Linked DNA regions of Homo sapiens. The protein of the gene in region 7 purifies or fractionates together with the protein of the main gene of each other region. This does not show direct contact. Each region holds a gene or a part of one and is shown on either strand. Other genes may lie near its edges.

The links.
Region 1: the proteins of NEIL1 (region 7) and MYBBP1A purify together in Homo sapiens (affinity purification with mass spectrometry; one large-scale study listed by BioGRID and IntAct). This does not show direct contact.
Region 2: the proteins of NEIL1 (region 7) and ANKHD1 purify together in Homo sapiens (affinity purification with mass spectrometry, with the first as the bait; one large-scale study listed by BioGRID). This does not show direct contact.
Region 3: the proteins of NEIL1 (region 7) and WDR12 purify together in Homo sapiens (affinity purification with mass spectrometry; one large-scale study listed by BioGRID and IntAct). This does not show direct contact.
Region 4: the proteins of NEIL1 (region 7) and POP1 purify together in Homo sapiens (affinity purification with mass spectrometry; one large-scale study listed by BioGRID and IntAct). This does not show direct contact.
Region 5: the proteins of NEIL1 (region 7) and GTPBP10 purify together in Homo sapiens (affinity purification with mass spectrometry; one large-scale study listed by BioGRID and IntAct). This does not show direct contact.
Region 6: the proteins of NEIL1 (region 7) and UPF1 purify together in Homo sapiens (affinity purification with mass spectrometry; one large-scale study listed by BioGRID and IntAct). This does not show direct contact.

Annotation. Positions count from the first base shown.
Region 1 is NC_000017.11:4,545,385-4,548,884, forward strand, and holds part of MYBBP1A (myb-binding protein 1A), read right to left. Parts: intron 3,266-3,500; coding exon 3,140-3,265; intron 2,927-3,139; coding exon 2,759-2,926; intron 2,674-2,758; coding exon 2,574-2,673; intron 559-2,573; coding exon 462-558; intron 378-461; coding exon 226-377; intron 1-225. UniProt on the Homo sapiens protein: May activate or repress transcription via interactions with sequence specific DNA-binding proteins. Repression may be mediated at least in part by histone deacetylase activity (HDAC activity).
Region 2 is NC_000005.10:140,502,833-140,506,332, reverse strand, and holds part of ANKHD1 (ankyrin repeat and KH domain-containing protein 1), read right to left. Parts: intron 1,513-3,500; coding exon 1,367-1,512; intron 1,212-1,366; coding exon 1,100-1,211; intron 610-1,099; coding exon 464-609; intron 1-463. Other genes in the region: ANKHD1-EIF4EBP3 protein, read right to left, coding at 464-609, 1,100-1,211, 1,367-1,512. UniProt on the Homo sapiens protein: May play a role as a scaffolding protein that may be associated with the abnormal phenotype of leukemia cells. Isoform 2 may possess an antiapoptotic effect and protect cells during normal cell survival through its regulation of caspases.
Region 3 is NC_000002.12:202,894,674-202,898,173, reverse strand, and holds part of WDR12 (ribosome biogenesis protein WDR12), read left to right. Parts: intron 1-758; coding exon 759-874; intron 875-1,954; coding exon 1,955-2,109; intron 2,110-3,500.
Region 4 is NC_000008.11:98,127,293-98,130,792, reverse strand, and holds part of POP1 (ribonucleases P/MRP protein subunit POP1), read right to left. Parts: intron 3,199-3,500; coding exon 3,031-3,198; intron 2,429-3,030; coding exon 2,253-2,428; intron 816-2,252; coding exon 567-815; intron 1-566. UniProt on the Homo sapiens protein: Component of ribonuclease P, a ribonucleoprotein complex that generates mature tRNA molecules by cleaving their 5'-ends. Also a component of the MRP ribonuclease complex, which cleaves pre-rRNA sequences.
Region 5 is NC_000007.14:90,353,216-90,356,715, reverse strand, and holds part of GTPBP10 (GTP-binding protein 10), read right to left. Parts: intron 2,259-3,500; coding exon 2,167-2,258; intron 1,631-2,166; coding exon 1,486-1,630; intron 1,010-1,485; exon of another isoform or gene 1-1,009. UniProt on the Homo sapiens protein: May be involved in the ribosome maturation process. Complements an ObgE(CgtA) function in E.coli ribosome maturation. Plays a role of GTPase in vitro. When missing, disorganization of the nucleolar architecture is observed.
Region 6 is NC_000019.10:18,855,959-18,859,458, reverse strand, and holds part of UPF1 (regulator of nonsense transcripts 1), read right to left. Parts: coding exon 3,370-3,500; intron 3,274-3,369; coding exon 3,159-3,273; intron 2,583-3,158; coding exon 2,439-2,582; intron 2,140-2,438; coding exon 1,926-2,139; intron 1-1,925. UniProt on the Homo sapiens protein: RNA-dependent helicase required for nonsense-mediated decay (NMD) of aberrant mRNAs containing premature stop codons and modulates the expression level of normal mRNAs.
Region 7 is NC_000015.10:75,353,539-75,357,038, reverse strand, and holds part of NEIL1 (endonuclease 8-like 1), read right to left. Parts: intron 3,429-3,500; exon of another isoform or gene 3,354-3,428; intron 3,301-3,353; coding exon 3,173-3,300; intron 2,790-3,172; coding exon 2,762-2,789; intron 2,609-2,761; coding exon 2,547-2,608; intron 2,387-2,546; coding exon 2,221-2,386; intron 2,076-2,220; coding exon 2,005-2,075; 3' UTR 1,134-2,004; coding exon of another isoform or gene 1,007-1,133; 3' UTR 930-1,006; coding exon of another isoform or gene 820-929; 3' UTR 739-819; coding exon of another isoform or gene 590-738; 3' UTR 434-589; coding exon of another isoform or gene 354-433; 3' UTR 247-353; coding exon of another isoform or gene 137-246; 3' UTR 1-136. Other genes in the region: MAN2C1 (alpha-mannosidase 2C1), read left to right, coding at 137-246, 354-433, 590-738, 820-929, 1,007-1,133. UniProt on the Homo sapiens protein: Involved in base excision repair of DNA damaged by oxidation or by mutagenic agents. Acts as a DNA glycosylase that recognizes and removes damaged bases.

The DNA.
Region 1 (3,500 bases), on a different chromosome or scaffold from region 7:
CGCCCTCCTCTCCAGGCCCCACTCAGCCTTGACCAAAGACCTCCATTTCCCAGAAGAAAACGGAGCCTAGGAGAGGCGGCCAGGCCAGGCCAAGGCCTCGTTGAGACCCCTCCCACCGGCCGCAGGCTCCCGGCAGGGAGGCTGGAGGCTGAAGCGGCACCCCTGGTGCAGCTCGCTGCTCAGTGAGCCCCAGCCCACATTCCACTCCCAAAGGTCCCAACTCACATCCAGAATTAGCTGCAGGGCACGCGGGGTCAGGTGGGAGCAGATGTGGCCAAACACGCTCCGGGCCACCTGGCGCATGAGGTGGCTGGGCTGGGCCAACAGGGCCAGCAAGATCTCCACCAGCACCTCTACCCACGGGGGTTCCTGGGGGTCTGCAAGAGGGAGGGGTTGAGCCCGGATAGGGGACCGCTGGCCCCACCCCACCACTCTAGTCCCTCTCGTGACCAAGGACCCACCGATGGTCTTGGTGCGGCTCCGGCGGGGCTTCTCTCCCAGACTTTTCCTGATGCAGGTCTGGATGTCACCCAGCAGGTCACAGCTCTCTGCAGGGGACTGCGGGCAGGGTAGGACACACACTGGGGCCAGGCCCTGTCCCCAGCCCTTCTAAACCAGGCAAGGGGCTGGCCAAATGGCAGCAGTGGCATCAAGAAGCCTCCAACACCCAGCCACTGGCCCGCCCTGGCCAGTCACCCCCACAATCCAGAACAGAAGACCCCAGCTGGACACCCCAAGAGCTGAGGGCTTTTGAGATGGAGTCTCGCTCTATTGCCCAGGCTGGAGTACAGTGGTCTGATCTCGGCTCACCACAACTTCTGCCTCCCAGGTTCAAGCCATTCTCCTGCCTCAGCCTCCCAAGTAGCTGGGATTGCAGGCGTGTACCACCATGCCCGGCTAATTTTTGTATTTTGAGTAGAGACGGGGTTTCACCATGTTGGCCAGGCTGGTCTTGAACTCCTGACCTCGTGATCCACCCCCTTGCCCCCCTTGGCCTCCCAAAGTGCTGGGATTGCAGGTGTGAGCCCCCGCGCCCAGCTAGCTGACGGCTTTTTCACACCTAATACGCAGTTACAGGATCCAAAAGCCTGAAGGGGACAAGGAGTCCAACTCCCCCTTGGACACTCAAGAAAGGCAGAACCTGACAAGGATGGTCAGGGTCCCAGAGAAGCCAGCAAGCCCCAGCCCCCAATTCATAATTCTAGATTATTCCCTCCATGCTTGGCTTGGCATGAGAGACAGAATTGAAAGTCATTAGTTTTAACTAATTTAATTACATTGAACTCATCTGACTGGGGATAACCCCAGACTCGAGTGAGGTGGCGTGGTGTGCGCATGTGCGTGTGCAGGAGCTCTTGAAAACTGTGTGATCTTTGGTACCTAAAAAGCAGACTTTCCCCTCATAATGCAGTCGGCAGCTTGAACGTTTAGGCCAGGGTGGGACAAAGCAGCCCAAAGCCCTTGTCATTGCTCTCCGGCTCCCAGGCTGTGTGCCCAAGCAGGTCCCCGTCCTCCTCTGGGCTGCACCTTTTTTTTTTTTTTTCTAAGACAGAATCTTGTTCTGTTGCCCAGGCTGGAGTACAGTGGTGTCATCTCAACTCACTGCAACCTCCGCCTCCCAGGTTTAAGCAATTCTCCTGCTTCACCCTCCTGAGTAGCTGGGATTACAGGCACCTGCCACCACACCTGGCTAATTTTTGTATTTTAGTAGAGAAGGGGTTTCACTCTGTTGGCCAGGCTGGTCTTGAACTCCTGACCTCGTGATCACCTGCCTTGGTCTCCGGAAGTACTGGGATTACAGGTGCGAGCCCCGAGCCTGGCCAGGGCTGCACCTTTTATCTAAGGCTCTGACACAGCAAACTGCAGCCTCCTCTGTCCAAGTCAAGTTCGGAGATCCCAAGGCTGGGGGCAGGCTCCACATGTGTCCTGGAATCACCAGGACTCTGCTGCTATCAAAGGCCTGACGTCAAGAATTGGAAGGGGCATCGTGGCCAACCTTTCCCCAAACAGCTCATCCACATGCTGGGCTCAGAATAACCAAAGCTGGCAAGTAAGGCAACCACAGTCAAGTGGCCAGACGGGAGCAAGCAAGAGACCCACCTACTCAGGCTACAGAAGACCTAAAGCAGCCCCAATAAGAGCAGCTTATGTCATGAGAAGAAAACTCAAAAGAAATCAGGGTACTGAGCCTCGAATGTGGTCAGGGCTTCTTGATGGGAAGAACCGAGCGGGAGAGCCCGTTGCCAGAAGGTGTTCCCACAGCAGGGGGTACAGTGCAAGCTCCTTTGCCTCTGAGTCTTAGTTTCTCCATGTCAAACATGGAGAGGGGGTGTCTGCCTCAAAGCTGTGGGGATTACGAGATCCTGCATGGAAAGCCTAGGACACCAGCTGGTGCCGCTAAGTGGCCGGAGGGATGTTTCCACCTGTGACAAAGTTGGCTTCAAAAACCTCCCAACTTAACTCCCCCAGAACCTTTCCTGGAAACCCGCACAGCCCTCAAAAGCCTCTCGGTAGGGGGCCCATTGTGCCATAGAACCCCAGGCTCACAGCCCCTCCCTCCCAGGCCCCAGTACCTTGAGGAGGTGGATGCCCACGAGGAGCAGAAGGTGCTGGAAGGCAGCAGCCCTGGCCTCTGCGGAGTGGGCCTCCAGCTCCTTCAGAGTCTGCAGCATCCTGCGGGGAGACAGGCGATTCCCAGGCCCCTGCACCAGTCAGACTGCAGCGTCCTGCCCACCCCCTGGAAATCCCACGTGCTCACCGGTCCCAGGCCTGGCGCTGCTGCGCAGTGAAGGGTGTCACGGTGGTCACGTTGTGGCTGTGATTCAACAGGAGGTCTGCGAACTGCACCAGGTGGTAGGTCCAGGGCTGCCCACCCTGGGTCTGGCCCGGTGCCTGCTTGAACTGCGTGCTGAGGGTCTGCAACAGACTGGGCAAGGGATGGGGCTTGGGGTCAGCAGACCAGATGAGTCAATGTAGCCGCCTCCCTCCGCCCTCCCCAGGGCTCGGTCTCCCGCCTCTCCAGGACCTACTAGAACTCCGGGGGCCTCTGCCGTTGTTCCCAGCTTAGGGGACCTGGAGGGAGCAGGCGCCCTCAAGGCCTTCCCACCTTCGGACCTCTCCTGGGCTGCCCAAGACTCACCTGAAGAAGGCACTGCTGACAGCCTCTCGGGCCTGGTTTTCCAAAGGGAAGGAGAACGGGTGCTTTGTCTCAGGGATCTGGGATGTGGGCTTCTTTGTGACAAAGAACGAGTGGAACAAACAAAACCTGGGGAGGGTGGGAGAGTGGCCATAGCCATTCACTGCCATTGGTTTTTACAGGCTCCCCTCCTTGGATGGTACCACCGAGGGTACAAGGCCAGGAGGAGGAGGAGCCGCCCTTCTGCCCTGGGTACAGTCCTCGGGGGCCTGACGGGCAAGGCTGGAGGGGGCTGGGCTGGGCTAGGATGGGAAGGGGCCGTTTCTCTGCTCTGGATCCCCAGCTGAACGCGGGTTAACCCGAG
Region 2 (3,500 bases), on a different chromosome or scaffold from region 7:
CCCTCCACAAACCCCCGCCAAAAAAAAAGGGCATTTACATTCCCATAAAAGTTAACAGAAGTACCCATTCCTCAGAAAGTATATGGAACATGTTAAAATACGTGCAGGGCCAGGCATGCTGGCCCATAACTATAATCCCTGTACTTTGGGAGGCCGAGGAGAGAGGATTGCTTGAGGCCAGGAGTTTGAAATCGGCCAGGGCAACATTACATGACCCCATCTCTACAAAACAGCCCTAGCTACTTGGGAGGCTGAGGATTGCTTGAGCCCCAGAGTTCAAGGTTATAGCGAGCTGTAATTGCACCACTGTACTCTAGCCTGGGAGACAGAGCAAGACCCTGCCTCAGAAAAACAAACACACAAAATACATGCAAATTTTATTCATGTAGCTAAAATACGAATCATATGCATATTTTAAAATACAAGCAAAATATTTACAAAATGAAAATTAACATTAACACACCTCCTGACGTCCACCAGAACATGCCAATGAAAGCGGAGTATCCTTAGTTCGTTCAGACTGTGCTTCTATATCTCCACCTTTATCCAAAAGGATTTCAACAACTCCAACATGCCCTGCTGTTGCTGCCAGGATTAGTGGTGTGAAACCTAAATCAGAAAATGAAAATCTTAAACAAATTTATGTTTTTTATTTTATTTTAAAGCCACTGTTTACAATTCTCTAGTATTTTAGCAAAATAAATCCTTCAGGGCAGACACTGATAATGAGTTAACATAAAACTGCTCTAAACCCTAATTTGTTAGTGACAAAAAACCCATAAACACCTAATTAAAAAACTAAGTCGGTAAAAATTATTAAAGTTTATACTCATAATGAACTTTGATGCCTCTGTATGAACTACCTTTGGATTAACAAAGGCAACCACAACTTGCTCTATTTCACTAATGATCTACGTCTAATTTTTGAATGTTTTGAGAATTATTTGGCTCCGCAGAATAATGAATCCAGATATTCCTAACTGAAATATACTTATCCATCTTATCACTGAGATAGTCTAGGAACTATTTATCAATAATAAAAAAGTTAATTATTTTCTGATGTAACTACACTTGGATTTTATTTCTGACTGATATTTACCTTTTTTGTCTCTGTGTTCAATTTTGGCATCCCGTGCAATGAGCACAGATACAAGTTCTTCATGACCACCTGCACAAGCTAGTGTTAATGCTGTGTCATGATTGCTCTCAGTCTAGGAGAAGAAAAAAATAAGTTAAAATTTTTTTTAACAGAAGTTATCAATTTAAGAGCAAATAATATTTCTTTTCACAATAAATGCAGAATAATTTTCCTTTCCAAAGAAGATCAGAATGTGCAAAATAAGTTTAAATAAAGCAATCTACTCACATGTGCATCAATGTCAACTGAAGGATACACAGGAGGCATCGATTGGGAAGCCACATTGCTTGTAGTCTGCGAACAGGATTCAGGTGTAAGACACTCTGTGGTCTGAGAAGAACTGTTGGAACCAGTGGGCACTCTGGTACTCACAGCTGAAAAACAATATTCATATTGCTAAATTCCACTTAAAAGAGTAAGGTTATTTGTACATAGAAAAACACAAAAACAGAAATTTCCATAGCAGTAATATGTAGTAATAGTAAAATCACAAGCTTTGGAATCAGACAGACCTACATTTAAATATTAGTTCCAACACTGACTTTCTGATCTTGGGCAAGTAATTTAACTTCTCTGAGCTTCAATTTTCCCTATATGTAGAATGGCGAAAATAATGGTACCTGCCTTGGAAGGTTATTGGAAAGACCACTGAGGCAATGCAGATAAAATACTTAACACAGCACCTGATATTTAGTGCACATACATTAAATAGTAGCTTTTTGCATTGCCAACAGGGAGGAAAAAAAATTTCCAAAAATAAAAGTAAATAAAAGGAATTCTAGATTTTAGTTTGTAAAAAAGTCAATTAGATAAAAATATCCTGTGTACAATTCAAAAAAAGGGGGCTGGGCGCAGTGGCCCACGCCTGTAATCCCAGCACTTTGGGAGGCCGAGGCGGGTGAATCACCTGAGGTCAGGAGTTTGAGACCAGCCTGGCCAACATGGTGAAACCCCATCTCTACTAAAAAAAACAGAAAGTTAGCCAGGTGTGGTGGTACATGCCTGTAATCCCAGCTACTTGGGAGGCTGAGGCAGAAGAATTGCTTGAACCCAGGTGGAGGCTGCAGTGAGCTGAGATCACGCCACTGCCCTCCAGCCTGGGTGACAGAGCTAGACTACATCTAAAAAAAAGGGTGGGGGAGGGGAGGGAGACAAGTTCAAGTATTTCTCACATAAATAGCAGGGAGTATGTGTTTCCTAAATTCAATATTTATTTTGAAACTTTGTTAAAAAATCAGTATCTGAAAGTCCAACTATTTTTAAAATGAACATTGAAGTTCTATTTGAGATCTCAAAATGTGGTTTGAAAACTGAGTTAAGTCCAGGAGCGATGGCTCACGCCTATAATCCTGGCACTTTGGGAGGCTGAGGTGGGCAGATCACCTCAGGTCAGGAGGGTTGGGAGTTCAGGACCAGCCTGGCTACCATGGCAAAACCCCGTCTCTACTAAAAACACAAAGTTAGCTGGGAGTGGTGGAACGCGCCTGTAAGCCCAGCTACTCGGGAGGCTGAGCCAGGAGAATCGCTTTAACCTGGGAGGCGGAGGTTGCAGTGAGCTAGGATCGCACCACTGCACTCCAGCATGGGCAACAGAGTGAGACTCCATCTCAAAAAAAAAAAAAAAAAAAAAAAAAAAAAAAAGAAAGAAAACTGAGTTAAAAGAAATTATGTATTTTATATCTCTGAAAATTTCTTATGTTTCTTAAGAGATGGAGTTTGACCACGGGGGGAAACAGGACCTATCTCAGGGATGTTGTGAGTAGTCTAAGAGATACTGTATATAAAGCATTTAACACAGTGTTTTTAGCAAATGGTGGGTGCTCAATAGATGTAACTATCAGATATTTTATAGGATTGTCAATACTATTATTCATTGTATTGAAAAATAAAAACATTATTCACTCAAGAAAGGAAAAACTCAGAAAAAAACATATAATCAGTAATAATATACAAAAAAATCAACAAAGCATCAGTGATGGCAATAACCTTACATTTGCACCCAGATTAAAAGTCAGTCAAAAACACGTAGGACTTAAAGAAAAATGTAAGCATTTTAAGTGTTGGAAAATATTTTCTCTCTAGAATTTTTGATATGACTAGATCCCATTCAAAGATACTATTCGTAAGTGTGAATGACTCAGTTTAGTAGATTACTAGTTTAAATAAGTGAGCAAAGTTTAAGATGCCCAGATATATTTCTACATGAGCTACCCAGCTCATCCCCACCAACATATATAACCATCTTGGCAATACAAATTTCTCCAGCTTCTGTCATCACATAAATAACATAATTTAACTATTTAGTTACAAATAGGAATAATTATTACATATGTTTGTTTCACCTATAAGAATATGCAAAATG
Region 3 (3,500 bases), on a different chromosome or scaffold from region 7:
ATCTCAAAAAGAAAAAAGAGTACTACAGGTTGGGTATTCCTTATCTGGAAATGTTTGGTACCAGAAGTATTTTGGATGTAGGATTTTTTTTGGGTGGGGGTGGTTTTGGAATATTAACATATACATAGTGAAATATTTTAGGGATGTGATCCAAGTCTAAACATGAAATTCATTTATGTTTCATATACAGCTTATACACCTAGCCTGAAAGTAATTTTATACTATGTATATATATGATATATATTTTTTATATATATATATATATTTTTTTTTTTTTTTTTTTTTGAAACGGAGTCTCGCTCTGTCACCCAGGCTGGTGTGCAGTGGCGCAATCTCGGCTCACTGCAAGCTCTGCCTCCTGGGTTCACGCCATTCTCCTGCCCCAGCCTCCTGAGTAGCTGAGACTACAGGCACCCGCCACCATGCCTGGCTAATTTTTTGTATTTTTAGTAGAGACAGGGTTTCACTGTGTTAGCCAGAATGGTCTCGATCTCCTGACCTCGTGATCCGCCTGCCTCAGCCTCCCAAAGTGCTGGGATTACAGGCGTGAGCCACCACGCCCAGCCATGCCAGGTATTATTTTTAGGAGGTTGAGAAACGTCAAGTGATCTGATCTAGTATGGCTTGAAATCTCAATCTTCATATCAAAAAAGAGTTTAAAAGTATAATCCTCAAAGTTACTTTGTCATTGCCAAAGAAACATTTCAGGGTTTGGAAAAACTGCTTTTTGTGTTTCATAAGATTTTTTTTTCTCATAGGATCTTGACTGGTTCTTATGATAAGACTTCTCGGATCTGGTCCTTGGAAGGAAAGTCAATAATGACAATTGTGGGACATACGGATGTTGTAAAAGATGTGGCCTGGGTGAAAAAAGGTTAGGACAGTTTGCCTACACTTAGAGGAATCCTAGATAGGGATTTGGAAATAAGCCATTTTTGGTGCTGGGGAAGAATGGGGAGTGGGTGGGAAGTATCTCATACCTCAGTTATTATGAGGTCTTTCAAAAAATACAGTGTTCAAGAAGAAAAAGATTATATAAAAAATTCATAAATTGTTAGAAGTGTATCTTTATTAAAATTACATCAGATAATATACATTTTCAAGTTAATATTGAATGTATTACATTCATCTTTTATTTTCTTCTGTTTTTGTTTGTTTGTTTTGTTTTGTTTTGTTTTGTTTTGTTTTTGAGATAGTCTCGCTGTGTCACCCAGGCTAGCGTGCAGTGGCATGATCTCGGCTCACTGCAACATCCACTTCCCAGGTTCAAGCGATTCTCCTGCCTCAGCCTCTCGAGTAGCTGGGACTACAGGCACCTACCATCACGCCTGGCTAATTTTTGTATTTTTAGTAGAGACGGGGTTTCACCATCTTGGCCAGGCTGATCTCGAACTCCTGACATCATGATCCACCCGCCTTGGCCTCCCAAAGTGCTGGGATTACAGGCGTGAGCCACTGCACCCAGCCTGTTTGTTTGTTTTTTGAGGCAGAGTCTCACTCTGTCGCCCAGGCTAGAGTGTAGTGGCTCCATCTCAACTCACTGCAACTTCCACCTCCTGAGTTCAAGTGATTCTCCTGCCTCAGCCTCCTGAGTGGCTGCAATTACAGGCGCCTGCCACCACACCCGGCTAATTTTTATATTTTTAGTAGAGGCAGGGTTTTGCCATGTTGGCCAGGCTGGTCTCAAACTCCTGACCTCAAGTGATCTGCCTGTGTTGGCCTCCCAAAATGTCAGTATTTACAGGCGTGAGCCACCACACCCAGTCATCGTCATCTATTTTTGAAGAATCTTTTCTTTATACCACATCAGCCTTTTAAAACCTGGCCATATGAGTTATCTTTTTAACATCTTTTTCAATAACAACAAAAAAATTTAGTTCTTTGGTTTCAGAACATGATGTATTCTAAATGGTATACTGATTTGTTTCTTATTCTTGTGTTCTCCTTTCTCCAGATAGTTTGTCCTGCTTATTATTGAGTGCTTCTATGGATCAGACTATTCTCTTATGGGAGTGGAATGTAGAGAGAAACAAAGTGAAAGCCCTACACTGCTGTAGAGGTCATGCTGGAAGTGTAGATTCTATAGCTGTTGATGGCTCAGGAACTAAAGTAAGTAGCTAGAATATTATTAGTACTCTGTTAAATTTGAATTTGAGCTTGTTGCTAAACATTTTCTTCTGCATATATTCATTGTGTTGGCCTAGTTTCCTAACAATCGGTGACAAAAGATAGGATTTCAAAGCAAGAGTAAATACTCATACAATAGGAGATAGTCACTTGCTCAGTTTGAATCCCTGGTTTAGAACCTTATATAAACTCCAGAAATTTTAAGAAATGAGGTATGGGCCGGGCGCGGTGGCTCACGCCTGTAATCCCAGCACTTTGGGAGGCCGAGGCGGGCAGATCACCTGAGGTCAGGAGTTCAAGACCAGCCTGACCCACATGGAGAAACCCTGTCTCTACTAAAAAAAAAAAAAAAAAAAATAAGCCGGGCATGGTGGCGCATGCCTGTAATCCCAGCTACTCGGGAGGCTGAGGTAGGAGAATCACTTGAACCCGGGAGACAGAGGTTGCAGTGACCGAGATTGCACCGTTGCACTCCAGCCTGGGCCCAACAAGAGTGAAACTCAGTCTCAAAAAAAAAAAAAAAAAAAAAGAAAGAAATGAAGTAAACAAGCCATTCATTTATATAACCTTCTTACCTCATAGTAATTGACATATTTCCAGTCTATATCAGCTACTCTTAAGTGCTGTCATCAACTGAAAACGCCTAGTTGATAGTCTGAGCATTAGCATACACTAAAGTTAGTGCTAATAGAGTTTTACTATAGTATCAATCTACTCTTTATCATGACAAAATGGTAAAAGTTAGTTAAAAGGTAACAAACCTGAGGGCAATACCATATTGATTTATTAATATGAAGGGTTATAAATCCACTTAGAATTTGAAAGTTTCCTAAGCCACATTGAAGTATTCTGGACTTAAGAGTGTTTCTTTGACAGTTAGGGTAACAGGATGCTTGTATTCAAAGGTGAAGATTTATGATTTTTCATATTGAGCCGAAAAGTTTTATATGTTGTTTAGTCCAAACTTTAGTGGATTAACTGTACCTCTTCTTTTTGGTTAAGGAGAGATAGAAACTCAACTTGAACTTATTTAACCTTAAAAGTAAATGGATTGTGAGATCCAAGGAAAGATTGAACAACCACATCACAAGAAGGGTAATGGTGCATTTGGGCCTCAGGAACCAGTGGAATAGAGGCTTGAATGTGGTCCGCACACCCTCTCGCTGTCTTGTCCCTCAAGTTGACTTTATTCTCTCTCACTTCAGATTGGCTTTCTTCAAAAGACATGGCAATAAGCTTGGCCTTCAAGATTTCCCAGATTTTATGTTCTGTCCTATCTGCCCCTGGAAAAAGGCTAATTTCAGTTCTGTGGAACACAAGTTCTTTGAAAAGGTCCTGAATGAGGAAGAGACCTACTGTTGTAGGCAAATAAT
Region 4 (3,500 bases), on a different chromosome or scaffold from region 7:
TGAACCCTGTTCAGGGTACACAGTTGATTCTCAAATATCTGTTATTGATGAACGACTGTTAGATTAATCTATAGTGAATAAAACTTGACATGATCAACAAGACCTGCACGACCTGGTTCCTACTCTTTTCTCTAGGCTAACCTTGCCCTGATGTTGCCTTGTTCTCCTTCTCTTCTTCTCTGTCACACAGAATTGATTCCAGTTCTTCACTCTCACCTGGCTTCCTTCTGCCTTCCCCCTCTCCTCCCATCTTATCCCTTAGAGCTCAGCTCAAACAGCACTTCTGGGGGACGCCTTCCAGTTAGGTTAGAAATGCTCATCATACTGTATGCTTTTCCCTTACAACCACATATCTGGTAAATCGTTTGATTAATGTCAGTCACCCCCCTAACTTTAGGCTGCCTGATCTCCAGCATCTGGCAAAGGACCCGGGCTTCATGCTCAGGAATTATTTTTAAAATGAATAATCACATAAACGGGGCTTGGCACATCATAAACTATTCTAAAGGCCTCTATGGAAAAGGATCAAACAAAAATAACAAAAAAAGCCCACTGGAAAAGCTCACCTGCAGGAGGCACCGGTTCGTCATGGCTCGATAGCAGGCTCTGTGGCTCTTGACTGTTGGCCTCTCCCCAAGGCAGTAGCCCCACTTCTTGACCATATGAAACCGCTTGGCGTGCCAGATGTGAGTTTCTAACCAAATGTTCTTCTTTTGTCTACGGTTAAATTCTAGCGTCCGGTTCATGTGACATCTTCGAGCTTTATGGCATTTATTTTTTGAATGTTCTTTTTTCTGATGTACGGCTTTCTCCGCCTATAGTTTCAAGTAGAGGGACATATCCCAGTTTGTAAGAATCTCAAAACAGAGTTAACGGTCAGGAATGCAAACAAATAACTTTAGATTAAGTGGAATATTTTATAGATCCCATTAGTTTGCTTAAATTGTTAACTTAGTTTCTTCAATGTAAGTAGAGAAGGAAGACAATGGAAAGAGTGAATGTTTTAGAGCTAGGAGACCTAGGAAGGAGGCACAGTTCCATCACTCACTAACTAGGCAAGTTTCATGGAATATGAAGATCAGAATACTTATAAAATGTTCAACACAGTAACACAAGCTTAATATGGCTATTAGTATTAGAGGGCAAGAAAGAAGAAATCAAATGCTAGCTTCTTGTTGTCATTTTAACCTGTAGAATTGTAACTAAAACCAAAAACTTAAGACCAAAAATAATACAAGTGAGGAAAACCCATACATTTCATCTCAGTTAAGCTACAGACATACACATGCTGAATGCTATCACTGGGAAACAGATTTTATATTAAATCTAGAAAGTATAAAATTCCTTGTTAGTTTTCCCTCTTGAACTCAAACCCCACCACCAGCATAGCAATGGTACATAGAAGGCTGCTCAATAAATAGGTTTTAAACCAATTAGTAAAGACATGGGCTTAATCTTAGAATGTTCAAGTCTAGAATTCTGGTGAAGCCAAAACACAATTAGACTTGTACAAAAATTAAAACCCAGTTCAAGTTTTCAACTTCGAAAAAGTCAGAAAGCAAATGCTAAGCATTGACATTGCTTTTTTTTAACCTTCCTACCCCAAGCTGGGCACACCCTAGAAACACAGATCCAAAACCACTCGGTAAGAGGGTCAGAGTTTTTTTTTAACATCTGGGAAGGGAACATCAACTATTCAACACCCTTACAAGAGAGGAGTATCAAATCCTATATTTCAAAGCACCCATAATAGCCAATTGCCTGTGAATTTCGTTTGAAGGGAAGAAGTTTGGATAATGATTAAATCAAATATATGCAAAACAAAAACAAAAACCATAAGGGTGATGTTTTCTGAGTTTTTTTTTTCTTTTTAGACAAGGTCTCACTGTCACCCAGGCTGGAGTACAGTAGCATGATCACAGCTCATTGCAGCCTCAACCTCCCCTGGCTCAGGGTACCCTCCCATCTCAGTTTCCAAGTAGCTGGGACTACAGGCACACATGTACCATCACGCCCAGCTAATTTGCGGATTTTTTTGTAGAGACAAGGTTAGGCCATATTGCCCAGGCTGGTCTTGAACTCCTGGGCTCAAGCAATCTGACCACCTCAGCCTCTCAAAGTGCTGAGATTACAGGCGTGAGCCACCATGCCCAGCCTTGGTTTTCATTTTTAATAAATTCTATTAGGTCAATACTTCTCAATTTCTTCTAGGAGCTACTAATCTAAACATTTACACTAAGTGGAACTCCTACCTCTTTCTGGGCAATCTCCTGTAACCGTCTGGGAAGGCGTTTGACGTTGTGGCTCATGGCTCTTCGTCGCATGTGCCGTGGCAGAGTCTGAAAAACCAGTGAATTCGAAGACTTCTGGGTCACAGCTTTTAACATAGCACTGATTTCAGCAGCTCGTGCTTGAGCAAAAGTAGAAGCTGTTGAAGGAGATGACAAAGTCATTAAACACCAATCTTGAATTAACATTGGAGAATAAACAGGCTGCTGGGGAAACTTAACTGAATTCCTCCACCAAGAAGGCGTAAAGAGAGACCAGAAAGCATATCTAAGGTATAGGTACAAGGTACAAGGAATATAGGGTTTAATTGTGGTAGTGTGGATGGGGATCATAGGGTGAAGAACAGAAGAGGATGGAAAGGGCCTGGAGACAGGCCCTTTAAATAAAGGTTTGGTTGCCATTTGTGTGTACTCAATTTTCCATCCTTGGAGAATGCTGTGCTGAGTGTGGATGGCATATTTAAAACAAGAGGGGCACGGGGGCTAAGACAAAGAGGAACAGTTCACAAAGACTTGTAAGAAGAAGAGTAAGAGACAGGGAGAGAAACTGAAGAAGGGAGAGCCATCAAGCCCAAGGAAGCTCTGGCCAAAGTCCAGGCTAGAGGCGAGAAGGGTCTAAAGTAGGAGGAGGAGAGGAGAGGTAGGGGAGGCAGAGCCAGGACCACAAGGAGGGCAGTTTGTTGCTGCACTAGACACGAGAGTTCAAAATACAAGCAAACTGCACCTCTTTATGAGTACCCACCAGTTATATACTTGGGGATCTCCTGAGACGTGCCCTCGGGACCTGCTTTCCATCCTCCCTTTTTTCTAAACATCCCTTTGGAGGAAGACTGCTCATTCACTTCAGGGTCAGGCAGAGAATGGGGGTTGACTCTGGTTTGCCGCTGTCGTGAAGTTCCAGGATGAGGCTCTAGTATATTTTCAAAAAGAAACATGTCACCTTTATCAGAGATAAACATTATAGTGGAGAACTAATATTTGTTGGGTGGCAACATTGACCATGTTTTTAATCCTATAGTCACCCTGTAAGGTGGCTATTACTACTTATTTTTAAAGAGGAATCTTACGTAGGAAGGTGAATTAACTTGCTCGAGGTCACAAAGCTAGTAGGTAGCACACAAGGTAATCATGTCAGGATGACATATAAAGGACCTTGGATATAACAGATACAGGTGAAATTTTCTCCTATAAACGGTGCAACATGAATTTCAA
Region 5 (3,500 bases), on a different chromosome or scaffold from region 7:
TATTAAAGATGAGAAAACAAATGACGTGGTGAAAAGCAAAAAACTATAGTGAAGGAAGAATGAGAGAAAAGAAAAGAAAAAAAGAAGAGAAAACAAAGGCTTAGAGAGGCTGTGTAATTTACCCAAGACCAGCTGGCCAGCCTCCAGAGGATTTGAGATCCTAACCTAAATAGTCTAACCTGAGTCCTCCATGCCACTCCACTTTTATGACTAAGCCGTGCTAGGCTCCTCTTAGACTGTAAAGTTGTCTCTTCAGAACTTGAAACACATGTTTATGCAAAATGCAACTGTGATTGGCTGGACTGCCAGTCTTGTCCATAAGACCCTATTAAGCCCATAATGTTCCTAAAAATATAGAGGATTATAGAACTTACATCTAATAACTCTTGTAACTGTGCTTTATTGAAAAAAATAAATGTAAATGGCAAGCCAGGATCACATCTTTCCTTGTTATAATTTTAGCAGGAATGGGGCCTCTGTGAACCCTAAACCAATGGTGGTAAGCTCTAGTGGCTGGTCAGGCAGGGCAAAAGACGAGGGATACAGACTTAAGAGTCTGGTAAAGAAGCAGTGAGATGACTGAAGAGGAACATGAAAAGAACTTAGAAAGAAGCTATGGGGAAGCAAAAAATAGAACTAGGAATTTGGAGTAGGACAGTAATAAGGCAGTTTTCCTTATCTTGTCCTTAAGCTTTCCATCTGAATAACTGTGTAATACTGTGATAGGGCCAGAGGGAGAGGATAGGAGGGAGGGGGGATGGGGGAGAGAGAGCAAATGCAAATTGAAGTTTTCTCTTCCTTTATGTATTCTGTATCTTACTATCTATCCCCTTCCAGTGGGCAGCTGCACTGCAAACCCCACAGCTAAACAGCATTATTTAATGAAAGAATGGAGGCTGGTGGAAGAGGACACTCTTGTGAGGCCTACATTGCTGAGACTAGATAGATCCTAAGCAGAGGCAAGAAGGATATACAGTCATAGCAGGATTCAATTTGGCGGCAACAGTGCGTAAGTCTGAGGATTGAGATTGTCTGTACTGGTCTTTAGCCATTTGATTAACGATACTTTAATGTCTCTATTAAGACCCAAAAGAGTTATGTCAACCATTTTTCCCTGTTTATTTCCTTCTATATATTTTTAATAATAATACGGTTTGTTTGGATTTATTATTAATATCTGGTAACATTATTTAACCATCTTGTAATATTGCATTTGATTGATTTTTCTTTCTTTATGCATTCTCTAACATTCCCACTGATCTATTCAATTGCTCTGGTCTTAATTTTATAAATAAGCAATAACTATGAAACTCTGTGTTGGCAATTTGAAAATAATATTTAGCAGCATATTTTCCAAGTACATACACAACACACAAATTCCATAAATTAGAAATAATTATGGCCCCAAATTACCATTTACATTTATTTTCTATTCAAGAACTCTCTCTCTGAAAGTATAATAATAAAAATATGAACGATACTTACCCTACTAGGCCTACATCAGCTATAAGTTTTAGATCAAGGTGAATTATTCGTTTCTGGCCTTTCAATGGTAAGAAATTTGTAAGTAATTTACCACCAAGACCTCCTTGAGCTACCAAAATTCTGTCATTTTCTTTATTGAGTTCTCCTTAAAAAGAGGGAGAGAAATACTTACAGCAAAGATTAATAAGTGAAATCACTAATGCAATATATTTCTTTCAGAAATACAGGCAAAGAAATGCAAAATTACAAATCTATAGATTAGTAAGTGAAATCATTAATGTAATATTTTACTTTCAAAAATACATGCCAGGAAATTCTCAATTACAAATCTATAATTAATAAGTAGAATCATTAATGTAATATTGTTCTTTCAGAAAAACAGTCCAGGAAATTCCAATTTACAAATCTATTAAAAGTTTGACCCCAGAAAAACACTTCAGTAAACAATTGAAAAGAGCCTAGTTATATATTTTAAGACCAAGTAAGAACTGTAACATCTTTAAAACAATCTTAAATCTAGCAGTCAATTTAACTTTTATAAGTTTTAAAAATGCTCTCTTATAGAATAGTAGCTAAAATTGTTAGTTAAAAAATCTTCTGAAACTCAAGAGAAGCTATTCCATTGTTTCATTTTAGAAAACGTGCACATTTTTACAACTTTTGGAGTTATAGTACACTCACCTATAATTTTACCATTTTCATCAGTTACTGAAATACCCACAGGCACAGGGATTTCACAGTCTTTTCCTTTGGAGCCTTTCAGTGCACTAATTCTACCAAAAAAAAAGTATATATATGTATGTATGTGTGTGTGTATATATACACACACACACATACACACAAAATGGTTTACAAAGAAGAGTAGCAATCAATTCTCTGGTTAACGCAGATGTTAAATGGTCAAACACGGGGTTTAAAAAAACTAAAATTATCCCTAATTATTTCTTTGCATTTTAGACTATTATATCCCACTAAAATGGCATTAAGTAATGATTTAAGTTACTAAGCTAACCACCAAAGGTCATTTTAACCCGAAACTAAAATATTGCAACCATGAAATGAAGAGATTATTGCTACAATACAAATAGGGTAGAAAAAGCCAGGCGTGGTGGCTCACGCCTGTAATCTCAGCACTTTGGGAGGCGGAGGCAGGAGGATCTCTTGAGTCCAGGAGTTCAAGACAAGCCTGAACACCATAGCACGACCCCATTTCTACAAAAAAAGAAAAATTTAAAAATTAGCTGGGCATGGTGGCACATACCCGTAGTCTCAGCTACTTGGGAGGCAGAGGTGGGAGGATCACTTCAGCCTGAAAGGTAGAGGCTGCAGTGAGCTATGATAGTGCCCACTACACTCAACCTAGGCAACAGAATGAGACTCTGTCTCAAAAAAAAAAGAAAAAATGAATCTATAAAAAAAAAAAGAAAATCCACCAAATAGCAAAGCTTTTAAAAAACTAACCTCAAATGAGAGTACTTACATTATAGAAGGCAAATCTGGCTACTCTTAAACTGCTCATAAAAGAAAAAATTAGTACAAATGTTTTAGTAATTCTACTTCTGGGAATTTATCAAAATAATAATTGAACAAACATGTAAAATAGTATCTACACAGAATGCTGCACTGTGGTTATAATCGGAAAAAAAAATCAACAATAACCTAAATAGACAAATGACAAAATAGTTATTTATTATGCAGGTATTCTGAATAATTTTGACATGTGAAAAAAAGTAAAAATAGCAGATTGTAAAATACTGTACTCTCATTTTTGTATTCTAAACTTTTAGGCACATAATTGCATTTGTGTAAACACACAGAAAAGTCTTAGAAAAGTCAAGAAAAGGTTAATAGTGGTTATCTTGCCTTCTAATGGTGGTGGGGTAGAGTAGCATGGTTAAGACTGAAAGTTTTCTAAAAGGTTGTCAAAGATAATTTTAGAAGAAAACAGTGGGAATTCAGATAATTATCGGTTTCTACAGGGGAAGTGCAAAAAGAATACAGATAGACATTGGGAA
Region 6 (3,500 bases), on a different chromosome or scaffold from region 7:
CCTGCAGGGATGAGGCGGCTTCTCACAGCTGGTCAGGTGGTTCTGGGTTCAGGTGCTGGCTATCCAAATATGCTCACTTAGTAACCACTCATTGAGCCAGACACTTGTAATGTGGCCACATGTTTACACTTCAATAGAGAATTTCCTAAAATGTACTTCCTGGGTGTGAACTACGTGCTGTGCATCAATTAGAGAGCAGTGTGCACCAGCGTCTGCCCTCTGGGCCGATGCCCTGGGGACCATGAGGGGTCTGAGCCTGCGCCGAGCCACGCCTTTCCCAGCCAGTGCTCAGACACCCCAGAGCACAAGCTAGGTCTCTGTGGCCTTGTGTTTTCAGCCTTGCCATGCGCTGGGAACAGCGGTGTCCCTGCGATGTCAATAGTGGCATCAACTCCCAAGACCTACCGCTAGGCAAAGAGTGGTGTGGCCCAACCCGGGGGGTGGGCTCTGAGCCTCACTTTCTCCTGTAACTAGGCCTGACAATACCAACCTCACAGGTTTGGAGTTCATGAGGCGCTGTGTCGGCAGCTTTCAGGACCCTTTACACTCTCAAAAGTTAGGGAGTCCAAACAGCTTTTGTTTATTGGATAACTGTATTCTCTAAACTTGGAAATTTAAAAAATATATTAATTCATTTAAAAATAACCCATTACGTGTTAGTTATTTCTCCAAAAATAAGCTAAGTAAGAAGAGTGGTCCTGTCTCCCATTTCTGCAAATCTCCTTACTATCTGGCTGAATCGGAGGCAGCTGGGCCCTGGGGTCCACCTCTGCTCAGTCCACCCTCCTGGGCTCTGGGGACGCTGTGGGGAAGCCAGGCCTCATGGATGCCTGAGGCTGGAAAGGGAGATGGGTTTGTTTTTACAGCCTTTCTGCATGGCTGGGAGTCTCCAGCCCTGAGGCCACATCAAGCTGGACAAAGGTGGGTTTCTGCAGGCCTGTGACAACTCTTTGCCACTCCATCCCCATGTGACTTCGTGACACTCTGCTGGTCATTCAGGAAGGATCTCCCACCGAGTCAAGTAGGTCTTCCAAAGGCTGACACATTTCACTGGCAATGGTGGAAACATTCCATCTGTCACCCCCACAGACCTCACCAGAAAAGTCTCTAGGTGTTGGGAAGACACCAAGCTCATGGCAAGCGACGTTAAGTTTTCCAAAATTCTGGTTTTCACTTGAATTTTACTACTGTAACAGATGTTGCCACTAGTTCTCCATGAAGCGACAGGTTCGATCATTTTTGGAAAAAGTCTGCCCAACACCTTGGGGTGAATACCCAGGGTGTGTCCACAAGGACTTCCTTCAAGCGCCGGCATACCCAAAGGTGTCACGAGAAATTTTATCTGGTCACAGTGAAACACTCGAGGCTTAGTAAGATGTACTGTTCACTTCCTCATCCAGGGCGTTTCTTACTGTGATCCGGGCACAGTCTGGCTGCTCTGGGCTGACTCTTGCAGAAGCACCAGGGGGTCACCAGCAGTGTGAGCGTCAGCAGAGTGAAAAAGGGCAGGTGAGGCCTCTGTGTTATCCAGGGAAGCCGGACACGGTCTTGCGGGCCCCAGGGGCCCAGGCCCTGAGAACAGCTGTTCTTCATGAAGCACTGAATGCACAGCCCACGTTAAGGCCCGGGCTCAGCTCCCCTAACAGCCTGTCCTGGCTGCTGTGCATGCTGCCACATGAGGCTTGGATGAATTCTCAGGCAATGACTGAGTTTTACAGAGGACACAGGCTCCCCACATGCCCCAGAGACACCACTTGATCCAAGACCATACCATCAAGACCTTGGGCACAAAGTGCCCTGACCTCAAGCAGTGGCTATGTGAAGCCGCTCAGGGGAAGCTGATGGGCCAGTTCCTTCTCCCCAGTCCACATTCCCTTGATGCCGCTTCTCTGTAGAAGCCCCTGCCCTGGGCAGAGCCCCGTTACCTGCAGTGACACCATTCTGGAGGGAGCCCTCGTAGAAGATGTTGGATGGGAAGGCGCTGAGTGCAGGGTGCATCCGGTACTGGACCTGCAGGCGGATGGGCCGGATGCCCAGCACCACCAGGCGCTCGAAGAGCGACTGTGACAGCCCGGCCTTGGCCGCCTTCTTGCACATCACCACTGGGCCCAGCTGGCAGTGGTCGCCTACAAGGATCAGCTGTAGGAACAGGGGCCCCCACAAGTCAAGAAGCTCAGGTGTGAATCAGCCTCAACACACACTAGCAAGGAAGTAGGGGCCCCAGGATGCACAGGACACCACCTGGCCACAGGGGCATTGCTCACCACGCACACTGGACGTGCAGCTGGCAGAACCCACCCTCTATAAACCCCTCAGGGAGCCCCCAGTGTGCGCACACTCTGCTGGGCATCCTACGTCAATACAAGGTGTTTTAAAAGACAAACACCAAGAATCACACACACGAGTTTTCACACAGGAGGGCAGGGGAGGCAGCCCACCTGCTTGGCCCCGAGGACCACGGGAACCATGCACTCCGGCTCGGTGGCCTGGGTGCTTTCGTCGATTAAAATGGAGCGGAACTGCATCTTGGCCAGCCTCGGGTCACCGGCGCCCACACATGTGCAGCAGATGACATCTGCGTTCTGGGGAAGGGTGCAGAGGCATCAGGGCACCTGCACTGTAAACGCCACCAGACCCCGGAGGGCAGGTGGGACAGAACACAGAAGCTCTCCTGTTTCTCACCCTCCCTGACACTATAAAAAACAAGCTGTCCCTCCCAGACAAGATACATGGTCCAGGCTGTGGTGATTACAAACTTTTAAGATCCTTAAACGGTCATGTTTCACAGAAGGCAACCTCTCCACACCAAGAGCTCTGCGCCTCACGACAGCCTCCAAGGGGCAGTGCTGAGCTGCTGGAACCTGCACTCAGGCTGATTCCAGTTCAGGCTGGTTGGTTATGAAAGAGCAGGAGTGTTCTAGATCCACTGCCGGATCCCAGTGGAGGCTGGCAGGGAGTGGAGACTCCCTAGAAGACCGTGTTCCAGGCAGCGAGATGTCCCTAATTTACTGTACAACTGAGCGCAGAGAGGCCAAGTAGAGAGCATCTAAGTTCTCTTTCCAGAAGCAAAGCAACAATTCAAATAGGTGCTTTGGCCCAAACAAAAACCATCAGGCCGCCAGCCCACAGGCCCTTTTGCAGGCAGGAGGGGCACTCACCATCAGCAGCTCTCTCTCTGCGGTGCGCTTCAAGGCCCGGTACCGCTTCTCGTCGGCAGACGACAGCTCCCCAGTCTCGTCTTTCAGCTGCTGCAGCTTCTGCAGCTCAGGCATGCTGGAAGCACATGCAGGTCAGCAGGGTGCCTGAGTTCTGTACATGTCACCCGCAGAAGCTCAGGGACCAACTGGGAGGGATGGACTCGACACACACCTGTCCATGTTCCTGATCTGGTTGTGCAGGGCCAGAAAAGACACCGGGGAGTCGATGGCCTCACGGCTCTTGGCGCAGAGGCGCACGACCTTTAGCCCCGTCTGGTGGATCTTCTCCGTTAGCTGGTCCAC
Region 7 (3,500 bases):
GGCCCCGTACAGTGGGAGCTGGAGTTCAGTTGTGTGGTTCTAGAGCTTGTGCTCGGCCTAGTGACAGGAGCTCTGGAGTCTGGGAGCACAAAGAGGGGCACAGGGCCACCAAGTGGGTCTTGGATCTGCCCTCCAGGTGTGGGCCCATCGCTGGATGGATCTGTCAGAACACGGCTTTGGGCTGGCCCTGCTCAACGACTGCAAGTATGGCGCGTCAGTGCGAGGCAGCATCCTCAGCCTCTCGCTGTAAGTGGGGTACCCACCAGGCCTGGGAGCTGGCATGGAGAAATGGGTCTTCCCGACCACAACTCCAACAGCTTCAGCGTGGCCCCTACGCGCCCTCCTCACCCCAGCTTGCGGGCGCCTAAAGCCCCGGACGCTACTGCTGACACGGGGCGCCACGAGTTCACCTATGCACTGATGCCGCACAAGGGTGAGTGCTGGGGACGGTGGGGCCTTCCTGCAGCCCTAGACACCTCTCTGCCCTTCCCTGAGCCCAAACCCCAGCAACCTGGCTTCCTGCCCCTTCTAGGGACAGGGGAGGGTAGCCCCCATTCTCCACCAGCATTGTTTCCTGGTCGTACCCCAGGCTCTTTCCAGGATGCTGGCGTTATCCAAGCTGCCTACAGCCTAAACTTCCCCCTGTTGGCTCTGCCAGCCCCCAGCCCAGCGCCCGCCACCTCCTGGAGTGCGTTTTCCGTGTCTTCACCCGCGGTCGTATTGGAGACCGTCAAGCAGGCAAGGGGTGGGACGTGCTGGGGACGGGGTTCCGAACTGGGCCTGCCCTCGGCCCCTCCCACCAGACGTGTTCCTCTGCAGGCGGAGAGCAGCCCCCAGCGCCGCTCGCTGGTCCTGAGGCTGTATGAGGCCCACGGCAGCCACGTGGACTGCTGGCTGCACTTGTCGCTGCCGGTTCAGGAGGCCATCCTGTGAGTGGCGGTGTGGGATTGGGGCGGGGGTCGAGTCTCGCCCTCGCAGAGCCTTCATGGCCCCTCCTGTTCTCCAGCTGCGATCTCTTGGAGCGACCAGACCCTGCTGGCCACTTGACCCTTCGGGACAACCGCCTGAAGCTCACCTTTTCTCCCTTCCAAGTGCTGTCCCTGTTGCTCGTGCTTCAGCCTCCGCCACACTGAGTCCCTGGGGCTGGGGTTTTGTTTGTAGAAGGCTCTGGGGACTCCTAATTTCTGCTTCCCCAGCCTAAAGCAGGGATCAGTCTTTTCTTGTGGAATAAATCCTTGGATCGGGAACCCTGCTGCTCAGTCCCCTTAGGGCCCATCCTCACGCTTGGGGTGGGGGTGGGAAGTCTGGGGTGGGATGGCTTCCCAGGTATTTGGTGGGTAGGGGCAAGATCCTAAGGTACCTGTGCGTGCAGGGTCTGGGTTGCAGCCCCCACAGGAGAGACTGGGGACCTCGAGCCACCAAAAGCCAGTGAAGAGACCATGAGTTGAGAAGCCCCTCCCCTGTGCCAGCAGGTAAAGGGCCTGGGCCTGGGGCTGGGGAGGGGCCGAAGGGTGGGTTTTGCCTGGCTCCTGCCAGGATGAGGGGGCAGCCCTGGACCCTGGAGAATCTGGACTGGAGGAGCTCTGGCTCCTGGGCTGCCTGGGGCCAGGGTCTTTGTACCACCTCTGAGGGGCTGTCCTTGCAGAGGCAAACTGTCCTCTGATAGAGTCAGAGCCTTGAGGACTGGGATGGGGGCTCAGTTTGCCTTGTGAGGAGCTGGGCCTTCTGTCACCAGGACCGGACAGCAGGCCCTTCCTACCTGGCCATCTCAGACCAAGAGGTGCCAAGAAGTTCAAATGTATCAGTTTATTAAAAATGCAGCATTTTTCACATGAGCTTTAAAGATGTGGAAGATGGGGTACAATTAAAACCATGAGAGTTGTGCAGGGAACAGCCGTAGGGCCTGTTTGCACCTTCAGATATTGCCTGCTCCCAAAAATTCAGACCCCCAGATGCAGGGCAAGACAATAAGAAAGGGTGAGTGCAAGCAAGGAGAGCCTCCTGCTAAGAGGCTGAGGTCCCCTCTGGTTCCAAGGATGGGATGTCAGCCTTGACCTTCCGGGGTCTGCAGTGGCCTGGGGGAAGAACAGGCAAGATGGTCAGCTAAGACTCCAGGGGCTGCCATGGCAGCCTTTCTCCCACCTTTGTACACGCGCTCCTAGGCCACCATCCCATCCTCTCCTGTAGAGCCAGTTTCTGGGAGTGATGAGGAAAGCCCACCAGAGGCTGCCTGTCGCCCCTTCCTCCTCCCCTTCTTGGGCACTGTGGGAGCTTCTGGGTCCTGCTGGAGGCTGGTCCCCTCAGGCCGCTGGGTTGCAGTCCTCTTAGGAAGGTCTCTCTTTGCCCTTCGTGTCCTGGAAGGGGCCTTGCTTGGAGGCAAAGCGTCCTGGATGGAGGAGACACGGGTCCCTGAGGGGCTCAGAAAGCAGTTCAGAGGTTGGTTAGGGCCCACCACTCCCCCCGCCCTCTTAGGGTAAGGCAGCTGCCTGGGAGGGGCAGCCAGGGCTGCAGAGTGCAGGGGAGGAGGCGGGAGCAGGCAGCCATACCTCCACTCTGTCCTCAGGACTCAGCTGTGTGGCCTTGGATTTCTTTTTGCGGGACTTGCGCCCTGCAGGACACTGGTGTTGGAGTTGGAGGGTCCTATCCTGCCCAGGGGTGACTCCCAGGGTTGCAGGGGGATAGGGTGGAGAAGGGTGCTGTAGCCCTTGCAGGCGTGAAGTCCTTTCTGCTCTCTTAGCCTATTACATTAGGAGTAGCTTACCTTTGGGTGCCAACGGTCCAGGATCCCCCTAAAATGGGATGGGGATAATTCAGGAATCAGCCTGGGTTGGCACAGGGGCGGTATTCCTTGGAGAGGCAGGACTCACACACACCCATCCAGATCAGTGTAGCTTCTCCCTTAGGAAGCCTCTAGGACATCCCCCATGTTAGAGTCCACATCAGCAAAGCTGCTCTGCCCTTGGCTACTTTCACTTGGGCTACCTGCCTTGGGCTACTTCCACTAGCTGCAACCCTGGGACGCATGGGAGGGGAGGGGTGTGACCCTCAGGAACAGTGTGGTCCTTGGAGGGTCTAGACAGACCCTGAGCATCACCACCCCAGTTATTGTGACCCCACGTTTCCACCCATCAGCCTCCTGGGGTCTCTGCCTGTGTGAACAGTAGGGCCCAACCTGGAACCAGATGGTACGGCCATGCCGGTCCTGCAGGGAGCTCATGCCTGGCATGCCATAGCAGCGCAGCCAGGCTCGAAAGGCAGCAAAGTCCTCCTCCCCGCTCTCTGACCCGTAGCCTTTGCCCCCTGTGGGACAGAGGAACAGGCAGAGATCAGAGGGCAGGCTCAGGTTGGGAGGAGTGGGGAGCCTGGTTAGACCTGGCCCAGACCTCAGCTACACAAGCTGATGGACTGAGTCAGGGGCCACACTCTCCCTCCTCTGGTGATGTGACCTCAGCTGGTTTCTTCCCACTCGGCCATGGGTTTCCCATCCTGGAGTGGGATTA